3 linked regions of the Homo sapiens genome follow. The protein of the gene in region 2 purifies or fractionates together with the protein of the main gene of each other region. This does not show direct contact. Each region holds a gene or a part of one and is shown on either strand. Other genes may lie near its edges. The genes, in order: UBR5, ABHD10 and KCMF1.

The links.
Region 1: the proteins of ABHD10 (region 2) and UBR5 purify together in Homo sapiens (co-immunoprecipitation; 2 studies listed by BioGRID and IntAct, with this or other methods). This does not show direct contact.
Region 3: the proteins of ABHD10 (region 2) and KCMF1 purify together in Homo sapiens (affinity purification with mass spectrometry; 5 studies listed by BioGRID and IntAct, with this or other methods). This does not show direct contact.

The regions. Positions count from the first base shown.
Region 1 is NC_000008.11:102,286,976-102,290,728, forward strand, and holds part of UBR5 (E3 ubiquitin-protein ligase UBR5), read right to left. Parts: intron 2,602-3,753; coding exon 2,478-2,601; intron 1,292-2,477; coding exon 1,180-1,291; intron 590-1,179; coding exon 458-589; intron 1-457. UniProt on the Homo sapiens protein: E3 ubiquitin-protein ligase involved in different protein quality control pathways in the cytoplasm and nucleus. Mainly acts as a ubiquitin chain elongator that extends pre-ubiquitinated substrates.
Region 2 is NC_000003.12:111,976,759-111,980,511, reverse strand, and holds the start of ABHD10 (palmitoyl-protein thioesterase ABHD10, mitochondrial isoform 1 precursor), read right to left. Parts: upstream 1,487-3,753; 5' UTR 1,451-1,486; coding exon 1,309-1,450; intron 1-1,308. UniProt on the Homo sapiens protein: Acts as an acyl-protein thioesterase that hydrolyzes fatty acids from acylated residues in proteins.
Region 3 is NC_000002.12:84,974,141-84,977,893, forward strand, and holds part of KCMF1 (E3 ubiquitin-protein ligase KCMF1), read left to right. Parts: intron 1-3,753. UniProt on the Homo sapiens protein: E3 ubiquitin-protein ligase which accepts ubiquitin from an E2 ubiquitin-conjugating enzyme and then transfers it to targeted substrates, promoting their degradation by the proteasome.

The sequences.
Region 1 (3,753 bases), on a different chromosome or scaffold from region 2:
CAAGACCAGCCTGGGCAACACAGTAAGATCCCAACTCTTTAAAAAAAAAAATTAGCCCGATGTGGTGGCTTGCACCTAGTAGACCCAGCTACTCAGGGGGCTGAGGTAGGAGCTCAGGAGGTCAAGGCTGCAAAGAGCTCTGACTGCACCACTGGAATATCCAGCCTGGTGACAGAATGAGACCCAATTTAAAAAAAAAAAAAAAAAAAAAAAAGGCAAGAAAATAAAAATCTTTTAAAGAAACTTTAAAATTCATTCATTATTTAATGACCAGAAAAGCTGGAGAAAGAGTTATTAAAATAATACTTTCTTTTCTAATACCCAGAGAACAAGGATGAAGTTATAAAAATGCTTAGCTACCCTTGCGTATATCACACAAAGTATGACCCAATCCACGCTGAATACACACACACAGCCTTAGCATAAGCAAGAAAGTAGTTGGGATAAGGCAACATACCTGCTTCTGAACCAGCAGTTGCTGCAGTGACAACGCTTCTGCGCCCACTAGCATTATCTTGGTTGCTGTGGTTACTTTCACTATCACTTTCTGTTTCAGCTGCTGCTAACAAGTCCAGCTCCATATCACTCCCTAAAAAATACATTTAAATAAGAAAAAAGCACAAACTCACTATGGTTTAAAACAGGGTCTGATAAGCCAGAATATCGTAAGGGTGGGAACTAAGAAGGCATAGGGGGTAGGAGTTGGGGAGAAGGGGAATGGTGTGAAAGAGAAGGGATAACTACTAAAATAAGACTAAGTAACTACTCAACCTTAGAAGAATGGCTAGGGAAATTATGGTAGTCAACAGACTAGTACATCAGGGCAGTGCAGGGGAGGACTGAAAGTAAATATACAAGCTATTAGCATCTGGGTGTAATTATGGGTGATTTATTTTCCTTTTCTCTAATTTCCAAATGTTTCATAATGCGACTATGATTATTTTAGTTTTTAAAAGTCTTTTAAGAAACTGACTTAAAAAGAAAAAAGGGAAACTATTTTATATATGTATTATATATAGCGCCTAAATTTTCTAAATAGATGCTACAGAAACCCTTGGCAAAAAATAAGTTTGACCATTTCACTATACATTCAAATGAGGTTTCTCTCTGTATTTAATATCTCCCTTTAAAAGTACCTGATTTACTCATACTGAGTAATTTCTCAAATAACCTGCATACCGTCTTCATCATGCTCATCATGTTGTCCCTCTGCCTCAGCATTTTCTTCCCCGTGTTCTTCCTGTTCATCATGATGATCCTCTTCTCCAGCCACACCCTCCACCACCTCAACCTAAATCCAGAATCTTATTTGTAGACAATCAAAGCTAGTTAACTAAAATGCGAAGACCACTAACTATAGAGAATTTGAAATCATATATCAAGCAGTTTTGAAAATCTTCATTTGTTAGTGACAATTTGCTATCAAAAATTATATCCTGGCCGGGCACGGTGGCTCACACCTGTAATTCCAACACTCTGGGAGGCCGAGACGGAGATGGGCGGATCACAAGGTCAAGAGATCAAGACCATCCTGGCCAACATGGTGAGACCCCGACTCTACTAAAAATACAAAAATTAGCTGGGCATGGTGCGTGCCTGTAGTCTCAGCTACTCAGGAGGCGGAGGCAGGAGAATTGCTTGAACCCGGGAGGTGGGGGTTGTAGTGAGGCAAGATTGCACCACTGCATTCCAGCCTGGCAACAGAGCAAGACTCCATCTCAAAAAAATAAAAAAATTATACCCACAGATCCCAAAGTTCATTACTGAGCATATACAGAACCCTCAAGTTAGAAGTATAAAAATTATACTAGGGGCAGGGAGGAGAGAATTTACCTCATAAATATGTAGTATCCTCTTTCAAATACATTGTACAAAACTACTAAATTTTTCTAACATTACGAATATCTTGGCTGGGCGCGGTGGCTCACACCTGTAATCCCAGCACTTAGGGAGGTTGAGGCAGGTGGATCACGAGGTCAGGAGTTCGAGACCAGCCTGACCAACATAGTGAAACCCCGTCTCTACTAAAAAATACAAAAATTAGATGGGTGTGGTGGTGCGCGCCTGTAATCCCAGCTACTCAGGAGGCTGTGGCAGGAGAATCGCTTGAACCCGGGAGGCAGAGGTTGCAGTGAGCCGAGATCACGCCACTGCACTCCAGCTTGGGTGACAGAGCGAGACTCTGTCTCCAAAAAAAAAAAAAAAAACCCAGAATATCTTTGCTGTTAACACTGAGAATATCTCCACCCTTAATCCTTAAAGACAAGTTTGTGTCCAATTTCCTAATATCCAGTAAGTCACAAATTATTAAAATAATTTTACTATGTATAACCACAAATGAGAATATATAATAAACATCTACAAACTGGATGCAAACGCATATAGTAGTCTCAAGCTACTATTAATGTAATTTCTACTGACTACTCTTCTTTTCTCATAAAATAAAAGCTTTTTAAATCTACCACAATTAAAATCACCTCTTCCACATCTGCTGAAACAATATCATCCTGTTCTTCATCTCTGCCCCGAACGGGCTGTGACTGGCTGATGCGCCTCTGCTGTGGATTCCTGATGATGTAGGATGACTGAGACTGACTGGAGCTGTAAAGAATCAGAAGCTTATGAGTGGGCTCCTGCCACAGCTCAGATATGCAACACATATTTTTATTTAACTCATTTATTACATGTGAGACACTTGCTAGGATGTGACTTTAAATCTGAGCTGAGAATTCTTAGAAACCAACAATACTTAATCTATATATCAGAAAATATAAATCTCAGAATATGTTTTTTCTTTTTAAGTCATTTCAAATCTGTGTTGATGCACATTATTTGTATGAGTCCATCCCATCGAAAAATTCTACAGGAAGATTTTTCCTCCTCCACCAGCAGTTCTATTTCTAAAAACTCTGGTAGCACCATCTGTCCATTAACAGCAAGTGTTTAATAGAAGTGATCTAACTTTTAAGAGATCTGACATGATTTCTATTTTGAATGAGCTTATTAACTAATGACTTGCTGATGTGTGTGGGGAAAACATCAGTTCAAAAGCATGATTTTAAAGTAGTCATAACCAAAGGCAAAGTGGCAAAAGTTTCACTTCCCTAAACACCTGATTTGGAGACAACCAAGAAAAGACAGTTGACTGGATTATAAAACAAAAAGGGGGAACCAGAAAATACAGCTTAAAATACAGGCCAGAAATCTGAAACTGGTGGCTAAATAACCCTGTCACCTATTATTTATAGATTATGAAACGGGGTAAAAGATGTTGAAGTCAAAAGACCTTTAAGTGATTGCACTGACAGGTTCTTTCCTATCTCAGTTGCTATGAGAAATGAGAATCAAACCAATTAGACCTGAGAGTTGACTGAAACACCATGCCTTCAAACAAACAGATAAGTAGTCTCAATATGATGTTTAACACTAGAACTATAAGTAACTGGTAAAACAGAGATCGTGGATTACAAAAGTGGGAAAGGCTAAGAGAAAATCTGTAGAGATGAAAAAGGGTATTTCCAACCACTAAAGAGATTTCAATATTAAAACATAAAAGCACTGTGTGAAGCCACAACTAATGAGTATTTCTTTTTTAAAACAAACATCCTAGAACAAACATCCACAAGAACTATAGGCCCCTCAAAGTGGTTACTTTAAGAAGTTATGCAGTTAGTATGTATAATACTGCCAAAACAGACTAGGTATAGTGGCTAATGCCTGTAATCCCAATGTTTTGGGAGGCTGAGGTGGGAG
Region 2 (3,753 bases):
TTTGGACTAATACATTTTCTTTTTTTATATTAAATGAAGCCGTCCTCCACTTTGAAAACTTCTCAGTCTTGAGAAGAGAATCCATGTGTGCTGCTAAAGTTTTCCCCATTTTGTAATTAAGAAGTTGATTTTTTAAAGATGTAACTGAAGGCCTTAAAGTTATCCTTTTTACATAAAAGCTTGTTTCAAAGTATAGAGAAATATGCCAAATTTAAAACTTTTGGTAAGGACCAGTTATGCTGATCCACTCATGTTCATTTCCCATCTACTCAGCTGAGCACTAAAAAAAATTCTCACTATCCTCTTCCAGAAATCACCTCTTAAAACATAATTTCCCCGAGATGATTATAATTTATTTAATGTAAGTTCTAAGTAGACAGATTCATATAATTATATTCATAAATCATCTTTGAACATAAGGATTAATTCAAAGCCTGGTGCATAAGTGCTCAATGAATAAGTGCTAACTAGATGAAATAATATTATACTCTGGTTAATGAATTGACATACTACATTTTACTAGGAGTATTTGCATGTGTAACATGCCTTTTGGTTGCGCACAATTAAATGCAAGTTAATCTGATTATAAAAGTTTAAAAACTGGATACAAAAATCTCCATACAAAAGATCTCTGCCGTGACATTAATTACCACTCCAAGCACCATGCATCATCTGACAGCTACGTGGCAATGGTGTGAACCACACACAAAGCCAAAAAAATAAAAGGATCTAATTCAAAGACTATATATACATATAAGAGGTTCTCTGATTTTTAGCCCAAATTCTAGTTTCCTTTGTGCAATAATGATTATGGTTCTTTCACTGAGTGGGTGCAGCAAGAAAGCAGAACTAGAAATTAGGCTTATGAGGGCGTCTACACTTTTACAAAGAACATGCCTCGCATTGTTAGGTTCCCTAAACTCAAAGGAGAGTCAGTCTAAGCATTTTAGGAGTCACAATCTACAAATTCCTAGAAGTAACTAATAATAATGCATTAAATGCACATTTTAATTTTTTCTAGTGTTGGCCTTTAATGCAGGGGAGGCAGGTAAGGAGCAGGAGCTCTTTAAACTGCACAGTGTAAAACGCCAGCGAGGGCCCGGGGTGCCCAGAATGCCGCAGGGCCGCGGCAGAGCTCTCCTCACAGCCTTCACCAGAAGTCTACAAAGCGCCTAGAACTGGGGTGTTGAGAAAGGGGGAGGAGCATTTTTGAACCGGGCGCCAAAGACGCACTGCACAGGCACGGTAACTGACGGAACCCGAGGCGTTCGAAAGAACGCATCCTACTCCCGCCTTTCGGACACTGACCTGGGAGCCACCGTGGCGCCCGCTGAGGTATCCGTGCAAGCAGCACGCTGAGGCCACGGTGGGGACCGAAGGGGACGGCTGCCCAGCCCCAGCTCCGACAAGGTACCCAGGCCGCCACAGCTGCCAAGCGCGCAACCGCCATCTTCGTAGTTGTCCCCGCACCCTGCAGTGTCCCACTGAGGGACACGCTACGCAACGGAACCGAGGCTGCGCATGCGCTTCAGGCTGGAAGGCGGAACTTGCTAAAGAGCTCCCCGCAAGATTTTCAGCTTGCGAAGAGCGCACATGCGCAGAGCGTCGTGGCTCTTTCGTTTAGACTGTTGGTTCTACTAGTAGCGGGGTTTGGCTTGGGGCCTTTAAGATGTTTTGAGTGGCGTCGGGAGGCTGCCCTATCAGCGGGCTGATAGATACTACAGAGCTGGAAGCTCAGAAAGGAACCCTATCCAACGGTCCTAGATGGGAAACGTCTCCTGTCGAGGACACCAGGCTTGCTGCATCACCTGCAATCCCGCCGACCGCGTGACAGTTTTAACCTGTACTGGAAATGCTCCCAAGATCTGACATTAATCTCGCCTGTATAACCTGGAATGGTATCGGACATTCCCCGCTCTAGATCTATATGCCTGATTAACGAAATACTGAATTATCTTGGCCCCCTCCTCGTGCTATATGCGAAAATAAATTTCAGTAAAAAAAGATTTCAACGGAAGAATACAACTGAGAGGATTAAATAAATTTTAGGAGAATATTATATAATCCGGGGACAGAAGGGACTTTCTTAACCAAGATTTCAAAACCCCAACATCATAAATAAAAAATATATTTGTATACGAATTTAAACTTTTTGAATGGCAAAAGACACCTCAAGTTAAGAGCTTAGAAAAATGGATTTTGTAGCATAGATACATTAATACTTCTACTCAGCCTGCTCCTATAAATAAGAAATATAATTCAAATAAAATTGGCCAACAGCTATAAATAGGCAGCCCATATAAGGAAACATGATGCTCAAACTCACTAAATGAAAAACTGGAATTAAAAAAATAATGCCTTTTTCCCCCCATTCAGTTGGCAAAAAAGAAAAATAATTGGCAAGGATGCTAGACACTAGCACTTATGTATGATTGCTAGGAAGGTGAATTACTAAAATTTGTTGTGAAGTAATATGGCCACATCTATTACAATTTTAAAATATGCATCCATTCCAGTGCCTTTTAACGCAGTGGCACCAATTTGTGATTATCCTATAGAAAAACAACACTAGTTCTTAAGACTGCATATTATCTACTACACCGTTTTTAGAGGCAAAGAGAAGGAAAAAAATGGGAATGGCTAACAATAGAAAAATAGTTGAATAAATTGTAGTACAAGGGTTTCCGGACTCCAGCTCTAAATACCTTTCAAACTAATTCCTGGGGGCCTCAAGCATCAACCATGGAGTTTTACGTAGTAGTTTCCTATTTAAAAGTTATGGTGGCTTGTGTAATACTTTGAGTATATATAAGATAGTAAAGTAACTTTTATTATCCTGGTTATAAATTTGGGGGGCAGTAATTGGTACCAGAATTAAAGGCAAAGTTTGGATATAGTGAATCCAGCATGTCTTTGGAGTCGTGAGAACCTGGACTGTTGGAACAGTCTGGAACAGTTAGATAAATAAAGACTGAATAGATCTCTTTCTTGAGAGGTGGGATGCCTCTCTCTACTAAGGACATATAGTTAAGGACAGCAACTTGATTTCAGGACATACTCCAAAAGATGCTGAGCTATGTTGCCCGTTCTCCATTAGACCTGTTGTAGACTCTAAGGGACTAAATCACTAAGGTGATGCCTGATGCATGTCATTTCATCATCCCTTATATTTCTTTTTTGGGTTTTTGTGTGTGTGTGTGTGTATGTTTTAGACTGAGTCTCGCTCTTGTCACCCAGCCTGGAGTGCAATGGGGCGATCTCAGCTCACTGCAACCTCCACCTCCTGGGTTCAAGCGATTCTCCTGCTTCAGCCTCCTGAATAGCTGGGATTACAGGCACCGACCACCATGCCTGGTTAATTTTTGTATTTTTAGTAGAGATGGGGTTTCACCATGTTGGCCAGGCTGGTCTCGAACTCCTGACTGCAGGTGATCCACCCCCCTTGGCTTCCCAAAGTGCTGGAATTACAGGTGTGAGCCACCGCACCTGGCCCATCCCTTATATCTTAACAAACACTTCTCTCTGCATGTTTTGGATAATTGCAAATATTCTCAATCACTTCTCTCCCTTTTCTTCCCCTTTATTTTTGCAAGTCTTCTTGCATTTTACTTGCAGTAAGATGAAAAATCTGACTGGTCATAGTGGGAAAATCACTGCACAGAAAAGCAGAGAAACCCATGGATTGTTTTCTGTATTCACTCTTGTTGTCTAACAAATTAGAAAAAATTATGGCCAGTAGCAAGTACAGATGCT
Region 3 (3,753 bases), on a different chromosome or scaffold from region 2:
AGTGGTGTAATTTTTGCACTCTCAGTCATCTGTCCACCTCCAAATTCTCTGTAGTTCTCATTTCCTTTCAGTAGTGTGATCCTGAACTGGATATAATAGTCTGGTAAAAGGTTTGAACAAGCCTATCATGTTGTACTTGCTTGGTGCTTCCTTTTCAGGGCCTTATGTGTGCAGGTAATATGTTACTTTGTCTTTGTACCCACCCTAATGAATTACACTAAATCCTATGATTTTATTAATGTAACTTTGGATGACACAGTCCTGAGATGGACACCTGTCAAGCTTGAAGGCTCAACCTTGTGAAGCAGTGCCTCTGAGAAAGGCAATGCAACCAGGAGCATAGAGAGATGCTCTAGTCCCGGGTTCAGCATGCTTCTTCTGTAAAGGGCTAGGTGGCAAACATTGCAGGCTTGGCGGAGCTGTAATAGTACGAAAGCAGCTATAGACAACCTGTAATTGAAAGATCATGGCTCTGTTCCAATTAAAACTTTATTTGTGGACACTGACATTTTAATTTCATATATATATATATATATATATATATATATATATTTTTTTTTTTTTTTTTTTTTTTTTTTTTTTTGAGACACAGTCTTGCTCTGTTGCCCAGGCTAGGGTGCAGTGGCGTGATCTTGGCTCACTGCAACCTGCACCTCCCGGGTTCAAGTGATTCTCCTGCCTCAGCCTCCCGCGTAGCTGGGATTGCAGGCGCCCACCACTGCGCCCGGCTAATTTTTGTATTTCGTTTAGTAGAGATGGGGTTTCACCATGTTGGCCAGGGTGGTCTCAAACTCCTGACCTCGTGATCCGCCGGCCTCGGCCTCCCAAAGTGGTGGGATTACAGGCGTAAGCCACCGCACCTGGCCGAATTTCATATAATTTTCATGTGTCATGAAATATGATTTGTCATTTGACACCCCCACCATTCAAAAATACAAATAACCATTCTTAACTTTCGGGCTATATAAAAGCTGGTGGTGGACCGGCCGTGGTGGCTCACGCTGAGGCAGAGAATTGCTTGAACCCAGGAGGTGGAGGTTGCAGTGAGCTGAGGTCGTGCCACTGCACTCCAGCCTGGGCGACAGAGTGAGAATCCATCTCCAAAAAAAAAAGTGGTGGTTGGATTTGGCCTGAGGGCTGTAGTTTGCCTTACTTTACCTCTGCCCTAGACTGGCGCTTTAGAGAGTTGATAGAGCTTGAACTATCAAGAGTCTAGAAGGGGCCCAGTCAGCTTGGGATTCCGTCATTTTCTTTGGGTGATGGGAAATGAGTTCACAGACTGAACCAGCTCCTCCGTACTTCACTTTTCAGCAGCACCATGAGGAATGGAAATAATTGTTCCTCAGGAGTGGACAACAGGCTCCCCACCCTACAGACCCTTAGTGGAGATGGCAGTACCCTACATTTTTCCTGCTTGCCCGTTAATACTTTTCCAGTGAGAATTGTAGGGCCACTTTTAACTCACTTTGTGGTGTTCTTGTCATGTTAACATTTTATAGACTTTAGCACCCACTTTGTGTTCACCCTGCCAACACTGTCTAGTTCACAGTGAACCCAATCATTTTTTATCTTGATGTATTTTTTAAAATGTCTCACTATCATACTTTCAAATACATTTAAAATGTAAGTATGTTATTCAGAGCTTAAAATCTACTTTTAAAGCTTTCCAAATAAAAAAAAGCAACTTAACAAATTGCTCGCTGCTTATTAGCTAAAATGAAATCATGAATGTTCTTGCATAGATTAGAGCCTAATTGATTACCTGGATCTAGGTACATGTGTCGCCTTAAATCATTCAACCTTTCAGTCACTACTATGTGTAAGGCAGTCTGCTAGGTTCCAAGGAATGTGGGGCTAAGTGAATAAGATGCAGCTCCTTACTTTAAGTCTGGCAAGGAAGATGCATTTTTTACGTAGCTTCCACAGTGCATTGTGAAACATGCCATAAGGAAGGGATAAACACTGATGACAAAGTAATTGCCAACTTTTACTAATTTTGTCAAATTTCAGAGAGGTACTCTACTGTGATTCTAGCACTTTTTTCTTGAGTGCCTTCTTAACTCCTTTTTTTTTTTTTTTTTTTAAAGACAGAGTCTCGCTCTGTCGCCCAGGCTGGAATGCAGTGGCGTGATCTTGTCTCACTACATCCTCCACCTCCTGTGTTCGAGTGATTCTCCTGCCTCAGCCTCCCGAGTAGCTCGGATTATAGGCACCTGCCACTGCTACTGGCTAATTTTTCTATTTTTAGTGGAGACAGGTTTCACCATGTTGGCCAGGCTGGTCTCGAACTCCTGACCGCAAGTGATCCACCCACCTCAGCCTCCTAAAGTGCTGGGATTACCGGTATGAGCCACCACGCCCAGCACCTTCTTAACTCTTTCTGGGCTACTTTTGATTTTGGGTAAAATTGTTTGAGATTTCAAGCCGGTTGCAGTGATGTGCACATGTAGTCCCAGCTAGATGGGAGGCTGAGAGACCCTATTTCTTTAAAAAAAAAAAAACAAAAAAAAACAAATTGAGATTTCAAGTAGAGTCCTTATCTTTATCTGATTTATAATTTCTCTAGCTTTTTGAAGATTTTCACATGTAAAAATGATAGTGGATAAATGAGCAGGTGGTCATATTGTTATGCTAGTTTCAGAAGTATCTGATACTATTTATTTTTAAAATGTAAAATACAAGACTACGTAGGCCATTAATCTACTTAGTCCCAACTTTTTTTGTTTTTATTTTTTTAATTGGCAAAAATTGTATATATTTATCATGTATAACATGATGTTTTGAAATATGTATACATTGTAGAATGGCAGCTCCAACTTTTTGAAAGTTGTACCACTCTTTTCTTAGTAGATTCTAATTTTCTCTCTCTCTCTCCTTTTTTATAATTATTTTTTTTTACTCTCTGTTGCCCAGGCTAGAGTAGAGTACATTGGTGGGATCTTGGCTTACTGCAACCTCCATCTCCCAGGCTCAAGTGATCCTCCCATCTCAGCCTCCCAGAGTGTTGGGATTACAGGTGTGAGCCATTGCTCCTAGCCTTAATTTTCTCTTCTCAAAAAATGTTATCTGCCACTGAAGCACACATATAGACAGAAATAATTTGGTTTTGGGATTTGGGGACTGCAAAGCCAAGATTGGTAATTAGCATGTGATTTTAATGCAGTGCCTTTTGCCTCCCTATAGAAATGTAAGTGGACTCCCACTGATAAGATCCTTACCATCAGGTCTTCTTACAACTTATTGTACTTTAACTGTAATCTGTTAACAGATTATGACATTCTTAAGACTTTTTCAGTTCGTTTTTTGTTTTTGAGACAGGGTCTCTGTCGCCCATGCTGCGCACCAGCATAGCCCGCTGCAGCATTGACCTCGCAGGCTCAAAGAATCCTCCCACTTCAGCCTCCATAGCAGGTCGGACCACAGGTGTGCGCCCCACACCCGACTTTTTTTTTTTTTCTTTTTTGTAGAGACTGGATCTTCCAGTATTGCCTAGGCTGGTCTCAAACTCCTGGGCTCAAGTGATTCTCCCACCTCAGCTCTCGAGTACTGGGATTATAGGTGTGAGCTGCCATGCCCAGCAACTTTTTCAGTTTGAATAAATCGTAAATTACATTTACCTTGACTTTCAATAGAGAATATATAAGAATGTAAATTTATGGGAAAATGAATCACATTTTAATTTCTGGGGTCTTTGATTTCATAATTTCATTTAAAGTTCATTTTGAAGCTCATTTTCCCATATTTTTATATTCA